Homo sapiens: one gene and its partners. The protein of the gene in region 3 purifies or fractionates together with the protein of the main gene of each other region. This does not show direct contact. Each region holds a gene or a part of one and is shown on either strand. Other genes may lie near its edges.

The links.
Region 1: the proteins of DMKN (region 3) and GPM6A purify together in Homo sapiens (co-immunoprecipitation; one large-scale study listed by IntAct). This does not show direct contact.
Region 2: the proteins of DMKN (region 3) and GOT1 purify together in Homo sapiens (affinity purification with mass spectrometry; one large-scale study listed by BioGRID and IntAct). This does not show direct contact.

Annotation. Positions count from the first base shown.
Region 1 is NC_000004.12:175,672,645-175,676,297, forward strand, and holds part of GPM6A (neuronal membrane glycoprotein M6-a), read right to left. Parts: intron 1,193-3,653; coding exon 1,036-1,192; intron 1-1,035. UniProt on the Homo sapiens protein: Involved in neuronal differentiation, including differentiation and migration of neuronal stem cells. Plays a role in neuronal plasticity and is involved in neurite and filopodia outgrowth, filopodia motility and probably synapse formation.
Region 2 is NC_000010.11:99,410,073-99,413,725, forward strand, and holds part of GOT1 (aspartate aminotransferase, cytoplasmic), read right to left. Parts: intron 1-3,653. UniProt on the Homo sapiens protein: Biosynthesis of L-glutamate from L-aspartate or L-cysteine. Important regulator of levels of glutamate, the major excitatory neurotransmitter of the vertebrate central nervous system. Acts as a scavenger of glutamate in brain neuroprotection.
Region 3 is NC_000019.10:35,496,720-35,500,337, reverse strand, and holds the end of DMKN (dermokine isoform 2 precursor), read left to right. Parts: intron 1-308; coding exon 309-380; intron 381-1,440; coding exon 1,441-1,464; intron 1,465-1,574; coding exon 1,575-1,622; exon of another isoform or gene 1,623-1,740; intron 1,741-2,656; exon of another isoform or gene 2,657-2,691; intron 2,692-2,799; 3' UTR 2,800-3,118; downstream 3,119-3,618. UniProt on the Homo sapiens protein: May act as a soluble regulator of keratinocyte differentiation.

The DNA of each region.
Region 1 (3,653 bases), on a different chromosome or scaffold from region 3:
CAATTTAAAGCCCCTTAGTCACATTATTGGGATTCCAGTTTTACTCCTACTCATATATTTTATCTCTTTGGGTGTTACAATAAGTTTTGTCCCAAACTAAAAACAGATGATTCTTATAAGAAATAATTCCAGAGACCACTACAAATACCCACAACTCAGGCAAACTATCTTATCAGATTATTGTTGCTGTTGACACCAAGAAGCATAATAAAATGTGTTAGAAACAGGTTAAAATAAAAAAGGTTTGCTGGTAAACAGGCATTTTTGAACATTTCTGTGAGATTGAAGTAATTTACATCAGTCCTTATTAGAGACAGCTTACTTAACATGAATTATATGCTATAATTAGACACATGTTGTTACATAACATTAGAAAAAAGGAAAATATGTCTGTCAAGAATGGAAGCTTCAACATTTCATTCTAGAAAAATTATTCTGTATAAAAGTGCAAAAGTACTTTCAACCTTATTATTTTTCATTTTCACCACTCATGCATTAATAGATAGATACGCATTGTCTGTATTACAAAACTGTAGAGTAAGACTATAAGTTTGATTTGCCATTAAATATTATATAAATTAAAATTTAATGCTGAAATTAATAGAATTCTTAAATTAATAGAAAACAGAAATCATATGATATAGCTGTCCTCAAATTTACAGTAAAATACAGAGACATATGTTTAACAGGAGACAGGCACATGTATTGCTTATAAATTGGAGATGAATTTTTCTGTGATTCTCAAGAGAATCACAGAGCCCTTTGGAAAAAAAAAACCATACATCAATCAACAGTGTTGCTACCTCTAGAAACAAAACTAGTTGTGCTACATAGAATCTGAGTATTTGAAACTGAATTTTCACAAGGAATAATCTTAATTTCAAAAATAATGTTATCAAGATTTAAGATAGCATCACAGAAGGAAACGTTACTGTGTGAAAAAAAAATACTTTAATTCTTGGGAGATGAATGCAAACACCTGTGTGCTATTGAAATCAATCCACATTAAATACTGAATGTAGAGAACTAACATACCCAAGCGCTCACACATCTGCCACAAGTGGTGATTTTGAAATCCCCATAGAGATCTTTGATGGCCCCAGTTGTGAAGAAACCTTCCACCATCAGCAAAATGCCATACACAAAGAACGCAGCTGCGATGCCGTAGATCACATACTTAAAGATGTCAATCCTGAGAGAAAAGACAAAGTGATTTATTTCAATAACTTTTCATTGCTGCTGTGCAGAAATTGATTCTCACATGCTCATGATTCTTTTGGAATGAAAGTTATAGAATATTTATATTCATAATGAAGGTTGGATTTAAAAACATGTTTGCTTCATATATCTAATGTTTATATACAATTTTTTTGCTGCCACTTCCAATATTTGTTGACAAGAGATTTAAGGTTTTCATGTTTGTCAGTTTCTTCTTCTTTTCTAACTTCTCCTCTTCCCTGGTTCACACCAAAGTAAGCTGGAATAAGCAATAAATTATACTTCTAAAGGAATTTGCTCCTTATTTTTATTTAGTTATTTATTTATTTATTTTGAGACAGAGACTGCTCTGTTGCCCAGTCTGGAGTACAGTGGTGCGATCTCGGCTCGCTGCAACTTCTGCCTGCCGTGTTCAAGTGATTCTCCTGCCTCAGCCTCCCAAGTAGCTCGGATTACAGGCATGTGTCACCATGCCCAGATAATTTTGTCTTTTTAGAAGAGGCAGGGTTTCACCATGTTGGCCAGGCTGGTTCAAACTCCTGAGCTCAGGCAATCCACCACCTTGGCTTCCCAAAGTGCTAGGATTTCAGGCTGAGCCACTACTCCTGGCCTATTCATTTGTTAAGTAGGGTAATTATCATATGATTTCTCTAATTAGGACAAAATACCAAATGCAAAGATTTGTGTATGTAACACTGGTTTTTAAAACTTACATTAAAAGGGAAGGAAGCTTTATACTTAATGATGCAGTAGTTTTACATAAAATGATACAAATTCCATATTTTTACGTTACAGATAGTCAATTATAGTTGTATTCTATTTTGTACTCATCATACACATCATGTGTATTTGTTAATGATAATGCGAATAATGAAAAGATATGGTTTTACAGATAAACATTGACAATGAAGCCATTTAGGTATACTCACTAATGAATATTCAGCAGAATTGGATCTGAGCCAAGATATGGCATACTTTTATAGTGGCATGGGAAGGTCCTTTTCATTTTCTCACAATTGATTACCCAGTTTTGCTTTTTTTTTTTAAAAGAAAAAAACACCATGTGGCTAAAATAAAACATTTATCTAGAAAATATAAAAATGTGCACAGCCAGAACTGATACATAATAACAGATGGATATATGGATAGATAGATAGATTTAATTCTTTTCCCCAGCTCTGTAACTAGGAAATGATATTCAATAACATTAAGAACAATTAGTTCATTTATGAATGAAGATCATTTGCATTCCCATGTTTTGAAAACATTCATTCCATACATATGCTCCAAATAATATCTTTTAAATCTGTAGGAATATTCATAGTCCTAGGTGTAGCTAGAGTTAAATACTCCATTAGGATTTATTTATTTTATATGTATATATGTATATATATTATATATATATCTGCATGATCAGTGAGCTTTTATATTCAACGTAGTAAGAGTTGTAGAAACAGCCAGTTAAATGCAGATGTGGCAATAACACCAACTGAATGCTATGCAATAGTTGCTTAACCTAAAAAACAGGTTATATTTAACACTGGGAATGTATTAATTATATACATTTCTTTGGATAGAGACCATGACTTTCTAATTAAAAGTTAATACAGCACCAATATATAAGTACTTGTTGATGTTAAATATTTCCTTGAGACTGCTGGGTGAATTCAGTGAGTATGAAACAAATTTACACTTTCAATAAACCCACTAATCTTCCTTTGAACTTCTAATTTCCTTCATAATTAAGATTTTTAATGATTTTTCTTCGTATAATTTCCACTTATTTATTTATTTATTTATTTTTCAAGACATGGTCTCCCTCTGTCACCCTGACTGGAGTGCAGTGACACGAGCATGGCTCACCGCAGCCTCAACCTCCTGGACTCAAGTGATCCTCTCGCCTCAGCCTCCCAAGTAGTAGAGACTAGAGGTGTGCACCACCATGCCTTGCAAATTTCTTCGTTTTTTTTGTAGAGACGGGGTTTTGCCATGCTGCCCAGATTGGTCTGAAGGGATCTGAACTCCTGGGCTCAAAGGGATCTGATATGGTTTGGCTGTGTCCCCACCCAAATCTCATCTTGAATTGTAGTTCCCATAATCCCCATGTGTCATGGGAGAGACCCACCGGGAGGTAGGTGAATCATGGGGGCGGTTACCTCCATGTTGTTCTTGTGATAGTGAGTGAGTTCTCGTGAGATCTGATGGTTTTCTAAGATGCTTTCCTGCTGCTTCTCACTGCACTTCTCTCTCTTGCCGCTATGTGAAAAACGTGTTTGCTTCCCCTTCCACCATGGTTGTAAGTTTCCTGAGGCCTCTCCAGTTGGCTGAACTGTGAGTCAATTAAACCTCTTTCTTTTATAAATTACCCGGTCTCAGGTATGTCTTTTATAGCAGCCTGAGAACGGACTAATACAGGATCTGCCAGCCTTGGCCTC
Region 2 (3,653 bases), on a different chromosome or scaffold from region 3:
AGATTTGGTGTGCTAACTACTCTGTTATTTACAGTGATCCTTACTGAGCACTCATCCCTTGCTATTACTTTAAAAGTTTTGCCCCCACATTGTGGTTTACCTGAATTCTTTATGCAAATTGCTACCAAGATGATATAACACAAATGTGCATTTATTTTTTATGGATTTGTCATCCAGCTAAGTTGAATGTCAGTTTCATACATGACTTCACATTGCAGATACCTAAGCCACTCTAGAGTGCTAATACTTCCTAAGCAAATGAGCAAGACCTCCCTTGAACATGGTTTTAACTTCTGGAAACACGATAGATGCATAGATACCAGTGGAAACATTCCCAGGCATAATTTTTCATTTCCTGTTCTCAACTTTTCACTCCACCCTTTCTCTCCCACTACAGAAAGCAAATTCATTTTTTTAAAAATCAGTAGAATACATTAAAAATGTGCTTAGAAGAGATAAACCCACTCCACATTAACTAATCCTTGACATTCATGACATATATGACACTTGAAATATCAAATTCTCAAGAAGTTATCACTCCCTAAAAATCTATTAAATACTGGATGGCTTCAGTGAAACACAAGTTGCTCTAAACATCAGCAACTAACAGAAACAAGTTTTTGGTGAATCAATAATATAGCAATGTGGTCATTCTGTGAACTGATTTTTGGCAAATTGTCCTACAGCCTAAGAATGTCCTGTACTTGTTATAAAGGAAAATCATAACATCAAAGGAAGTAAGTACAGACTTCTCAAGGAGCCAGGCAACTGGACCTGGGTAAACAAGAGTATCCAGAACAAGGGAAATCCAGGAAGACTTGGTATGAAGCTAGATAGAGCAGGCCTCTGTTGGACATGTCAGCATAAGATTGCTGGATTCTAGAACCCTTGTCTGAGATAACAATTTGCCGATACTATGACTTCACCATGAGGAATAGGAGAGCAACCAGGAGCTGCCTGTGGCCAGAGCCATGCTGCATTCATCTGGGTGCCCCCAGCATCTCTCACGGCATCTGGCACATGGTACTACATAAGCATGTGCTGAACTAGATGAAGAAAGAAGACAGTGGTGAAAAGATCTGAGCCACAGCAGAAGCCCCAAGTCGCCTAGAGGCAATCAAAGCGAGAGTGGGATGTCATGATGTGACAATGAGTTATGACCCATGAGCCCTCCTTCCTACAATGCTCAGTAATCTCAAAGCTGAAACAGCACTATGCCAGAGATGAAAAATCGACATTTCTGTCTGGATCCTAAGATCTGAAAGTGGAAAAGTAATACAAGGCAGTGAGGAGTCTAGAAAATAGGTCTCCTCAAAATGGGTAAAGGATCTGGAAATGTTGAATCTGGAGAAGAAAAATCTAAGGGAAGAAACAATTACTGTTGGTTTACTTGTTCACTCATTCTTTCATTTATGTCTCGTCTTTAAGTTTTGGCTCAAATGTCATTTCTATTTCTATCATAACCACCCTAGTTAAAACTGTATCCACTCCTAGAATTCCTAACATGCCACCTCCTGCTCCATTTTTATAGCATTTATCATCTTTAGTATACTACATCATTTTCTTACTGATATAGTCAAAAAGATTACATTTAGAGTCTGTTCCTCTCCCCGAAACTGAATGCAAGGGCAGGGGATTCTGTGTGTTTGAGTCACTGCTGTGCTCCAGCATCTAGAACAGTGCCTGGCTCTAGTAGTGGGCATCTGATGACTAAAGGAATGAATGAATCCAAACCTTTGGAACCTGAGGTACCCGGATAGGAGCCAAATGCTGAAAATCTGCAAGGTAAATAAGCAATGATCACTCTCCTGGGGAAAGTTAGGGCCTTGTGGGAGATGAAGACTTATAAAATTATCCATTATAGTAAGAACAGTTAAGTACTGTTATTCCCAAGCTGTGAACAAAGTCCTGTGATAACTCAGAGAGCTTAAACAACAAGCTCTGCCTAAAATACCTAAGGATTCAGTGTGGAAGTGACCCTTGATCAGCTCTTGAAGGACTTAGAGGTGGGGACTGGACAGCTAGAGCAATAAGGGAGGGCATTCCAAATGGAGAGAAGGGCCAGGCAAAGGTTCTTAGTCTTGACAGGGCCCAGTAGGTCTAGAGAACAGCAAGACTCTTAGAATGTCAGGACCTCTAGTGGAGTGAGGGGAAATCAGCAACTGTAAGAACAGGATGAAGACTGTCACCTGTCACCTACTTTCACTGCATGCCAAGCTCAAAGTCTGGATTTTACCCTACAGGCAATGGGGGAGCTATGGGCGGTGGGGGTGGGGAGTGGGAACAGGTGACATGAGTAGCTTGTTTTGCCAAGGAAGGTCATCCTAGCTGCAGCATGCAGAATGTACTAAAACAGGGAAGAGACTAGAGGCAGGAAGGTAAATTAAGAGGCTATTAGTGAACTAAGACAGCAGCCTGGGAATGGTGAGGCCTTCCAAGCAGAAGAAAGGCTCAGAGCTCGAACAAAAGGCAGCAGAAACCTCTGCAGACTTAAATGTCCCTGTCTGACAGCTTTGAAGAGAGTAGTGGTTCTCTCAGCACGGAGTTTCAGATCTAAGAACGGACAGCCTGCCTCCTCAAGTGGGTCCCTGACCCCTGAGTAGCCTAACTGGGAGGCACCCCCCAGTAGGGGCAGACTGATACCTCACATGGCCGGGTACCCCTCTGAGACGAAACTTCCAGAGGAACGATCAGGCAGCAACATTTGCTGTTCACCAATATTCCCCGTTCTGCAGCCTCCGCTGCTGATACCCAGGCAAACAAGGTCTGGAGTGGACCGCCAGCAAACTCCAACAGATCTGCAGCTGAGGGTCCTGACTGTTAAAAGGATAACTAACAAACAGAAAGGACATCCACACCAAAAACCCATCTGTACATCATCAGAGACCAAAGGTAGATAAAACCACAAAGATGGGGAAAAAACAGAGCAGAAAAACTGAAAATTCTAAAAATCAGAGTGCCTCTCCTCCTACAAAGGAATGCAGCTCCTCACCAGCAACGGAACAAAGCTGGATGGAGAATGACTTTGACGAGTTGAGAGAAGAAGGCTTCAGAAGATCAAACTTCTCTGAGCTAAAGGAGGAAGTTCGAACCCATCGCAAAGAAGTTAAAAACCTTGAAAAAAGATTAGACGAATGGCTAACTAGAATAACCAATGCAGAGAAGTACTTAAAGGACCTGATGGAGCTGAAAACCATGGCACGAGAACTACATGACGAATGCACAAGCTTCAGTAGCCGATTCGATCAACTGGAAGAAAGGGTATCAGTGATGGAAGATCAAATGAATGAAATGAAGTGAGAAGAGAAGTTTAGAGAAAAAAGAATAAAAAGAAACGAACAAAGCCTCCAAGAAATATGCGACTATGTGAAAAGACCAAATCTACATCTGATTGGTGTACCTGAAAGTGACGGGGAGAATGGAACCAAGTTGGAAAACACTCTGCAGGATATTATCCAGGAGAAGTTCCCCAACCTAGCAAGGCAGGCCAACATTCAAATTCAGGAAATACAGAGAATGCCATGAAGATACTCCTCAAAAACAGCAACTCCAAGACACATAATTGTCAGATTCACCAAAGTTGAAATGAAGGAAAAAATGTTAAAGGCAGCCAGAAAGAAAGGTCGGGTTACCCACAAAGGGAAGCCCGTCAC
Region 3 (3,618 bases):
ACTTCTTTTCTTGGTCTCCTACCCTCACCTCCCAAGTAACACTTGAAGAGTTGGCAGAGGTCTTGAGGGCAGGAGGAGGAGTAGGAGGAGGAGGCGGCGGCCATTTGGGCTAGGACAGTAAAGGCAGGTGAGGGTGGGGGCCCTGGCTGGCTGGAGGAGATTGTATAAAAGAAAACACGTGACACAAGGAGGGGAGCAGGCAGGTGTTTTAGGAAAGGTCTGGTCCAGGCAGGAAGGTGGGATGTTTATTCCAGAGCAAAATGGCCTTCGTCCGTCTGTTCTAACCGCCATGCCCACTTCTTCCACAGAACTACAATTACAACCAGCATGCGTATCCCACTGCCTATGGTGGGAAGTACTCAGTCAAGACCCCTGCAAAGGTGAGACCGGCAACCACCCTGTCTTCCCGCTGGGGGCTCTGCATGAGGGATGGGGAGAGAGGCTTTCACTGCCGGGGTCCTCTCGGTTGGTTGCCGGAGGCCGGATCCCGCTCTCTTTGAGTCCAGGCCTCCCCACCCCTTTGCAAGGGAGACTCGGGTTCCCTGAGACAGTTTGGAAGTGGAGGGCAGGAGGGTTCAATGCGCCTCACACCCACCCAGTCAGAAAAGGTTAAAAAGGAGCAGCAGCAGCAACAGAGAAAACTGAGAACCAACACCCTCTCCAAGAAGAATATAGGCTTTAAAAAATCATGACACCTGCAAAACACGCAAGCAGCTCTTCCTCACAGGTTCCCTCTCTGTGGACCTTTTTTTGCGGGGGAAGATGGAATGGAGGGCGAGGAAAGCAGACTAGCACTTAGGGGAGGCCGGCCTGTGGATGCCTGGTTGGCGGTGAAATGAATGCTTTATTCCACAAAGGAAATGAAAAGAAAAAATACGTGAGAATTTGGTTTTATTCCGTTGCAAAGAAGGCAATCTCATAACATCAGTAAATGAATATGCTAAGTACAAATTTGGCTGACAAAGCAACAGCAGGCTGTGTATTTCCATCTCTCATGACAATAAAGTCCCCGCCCTTGGGGAGAGGACCTTCCACTGAGGGACGAGAAACTACAGGCTGGTGAGAGGAGGGACATGCAGCTTCTACTGCCTGTGGCTTCCACTCTGCTGAGTTATCTGTGGCTTCCACTCTGCCGGGTTATCTGTGGTCAGTGTCTCCCTACCTGGCAGGCCAAAGCGAGGCCTATGCTCTTTTGACCCCCTTGGTCAGTACGTGCCCAGGAACCATGTTCAATATCATCTTGGATCAAGTGCACTCAGGATGATAAACGTGCTGTGAAACCAACTCCACAGCCTGAATGTCCACAGTCAGACTGGAAAACCTTGGTGATAGCCCTGGTGTGAGCCTGCCCTTGCTGCTGGGCCCTTCATGAGCGTGGAGGCCATGGCAGAGTACAGGGAGGCCATGACCCCACATCACTTTCCTTTGATCTTTTTGCAGGGGGGAGTCTCACCTTCTTCCTCGGTGAGTATGGGGGCCTGATCTTCATCTGGCTGGAGAGAGAAGGGGCCTGAGGCCAGAGGGTATGGAAGGGACCCTGTGGTGGCCACTCAGACTTTCTCTTTTTCTGGCAGGCTTCCCGGGTGCAACCTGGCCTGCTGCAGTGGGTGAAGTTTTGGTAGGTGAGTGTCAGAGTGAGCCGACCCAGGCCACATCCTGGCAGTGGAGGCACAGTCACCCGGGGCAGGGCCAGGATCTTGGTATATCCTCAGATCTCAGTGGGCAGCGACATGAAGTCAGGTATGCTCTGGGTGCGTGCTCTAAAGGTGATAAGGAAGAGGGGACCTCATGGTGGGGTGTGGAGAAAGACCCATAATAAAGTGATCTAGGGCTGGGTGCAGTGGCTCATGCCTGTAATCTCTGTGCTTTGGGAGGCTGGGGTGGGAGGATCACTTGAGTCTGGGAGTTTGAGACCAGACTGGGCAATATAGCAAGACCCCATCTCTAAAAGAACAAAACAAAACAAACCAAAACAAAACAAACCATTCCAGCCTGGGAAACATGGCAAAACCCCGTCTACTAAAAATACAAAAAATTAGCCAGGTGAGGTGGTGCATGATTGTAATCCCAGCTACTCTGGAGGCTGAGGTGGGAGAATCACCTGAGCTTGGGAGGTTGAGGCTGCTGCGAACTGCGATTGCACCGCTGCACTCCAGCCTGGGCAATCACAGTGAGACCTTGTCTCAAAACAAACAAACAAACAAATGAAAAACCTTAGCCAGGCATGGTGACACATGCCTGTAGTTCTAGCTACTTGGAAGGCAGAGGCAGGAAGATCGCTTGAGCCCAGGAGTTCAAAACTGCAGTGAGCTATGATCACACCATTGCACTCCAAGTCTGGGCAACAGAGGGAGACCCTGTCTGGAAAGAAAGAGAGAAAGAGAGAGAGAGAGAAAGAGGGAAAGAAAGCAAGCAAGAGAGAAAGAAGAAAGAAAATGACCTAGGACCCTCGGAAAGCACCTTAGGGTGGGACCACATAGGCACAGCTCTGAGAAGATGGTGTTCTAGATGGAGCACAGGGACCGGGATAGAGATGTTACAGGGGAACTGTGGAGAAAAGAGCCTCCTGGTGGAAGGGTTCAGAGGTGGGACGCAGCGAGGCTGCATGGGCGAGAGGTGATAGCTTGGCTCGGCAGAACCACAAACTCTGTTTTAGGCGGAGCAAAAGTGAGGGGCACCACAGGCGAACAGGTAGGACAGCAAAAGAATGGTGGGTGCCCAGACGCTGGGTGAAAAGATGCCCCGTTTCCGCAGGCTTAGGAGTGGCCACGTGCTACCATTTGATTTTCTTTCTTCTAGGCAATTTCTTGCAACCACCACCGAGGCCCCGAAAAGCACTGGTCGTCAGGGAGCTCCTCCCCTTGGCCCCCAGCCTGTGCCAGCCCTGGCCCGGCTGCCACACCTCTGTTTCCTAGGCTGGGGACCCAGCTTGTCTCTCCTTGTTTCTTCCCACTGCACTGTGGTGCTTCAGTGGCCACCAGCCTCGTCACATACACCAGCATCTTTCTGTACCTCCTCCCTTTGGTGACCTGAAGTCACTGTGACAGTTCTCCAGGAAGGAGGAGCTTCCTACTTTTGAGTTTCTCTGTGGAAATAAAACATGAATCTTGTTTCCCTACGACTTTCTCAAATTTTATTCTTTAATGCTATGTTGATGGCCTGGCTCAGGGAGGATGGAAGAGTGATTCAGGGGCAGCTAATCTGCCTTCTGCCTGAAACTGGTATAAAGCACAGAGGCTGAGAGAGATGAGACCTGGGTTTTATTTCTGACAAGAAGCCTGCATTGTGCCTCAGTTTCCTCATCTGTTAAAAAAAAAAATCATTGCCCAACCTATATCTGAATACCATTCTTTTTTTAGAGACTCAATCTCACTCTGTGGCCCAGGCTAGAGTGCAGTGGCACGATGTCGGCTCACTGCAACCTCCGCCTCCTGGATTCATGCAATTCTCCTGCTTCAGCCTCCTGAGTAGCTAGGATTACACGCATGCGCCACCACACCTGGCTAATTTTTGTATCTTTAGTACAGATGGGGTTTCACCATGTTGGCCAGGGTGTTCTTGAACTCCTGACCTCAGGTGATCTACCCGCCTCAGCCTCCCAAAGTTGCTGGGATTACA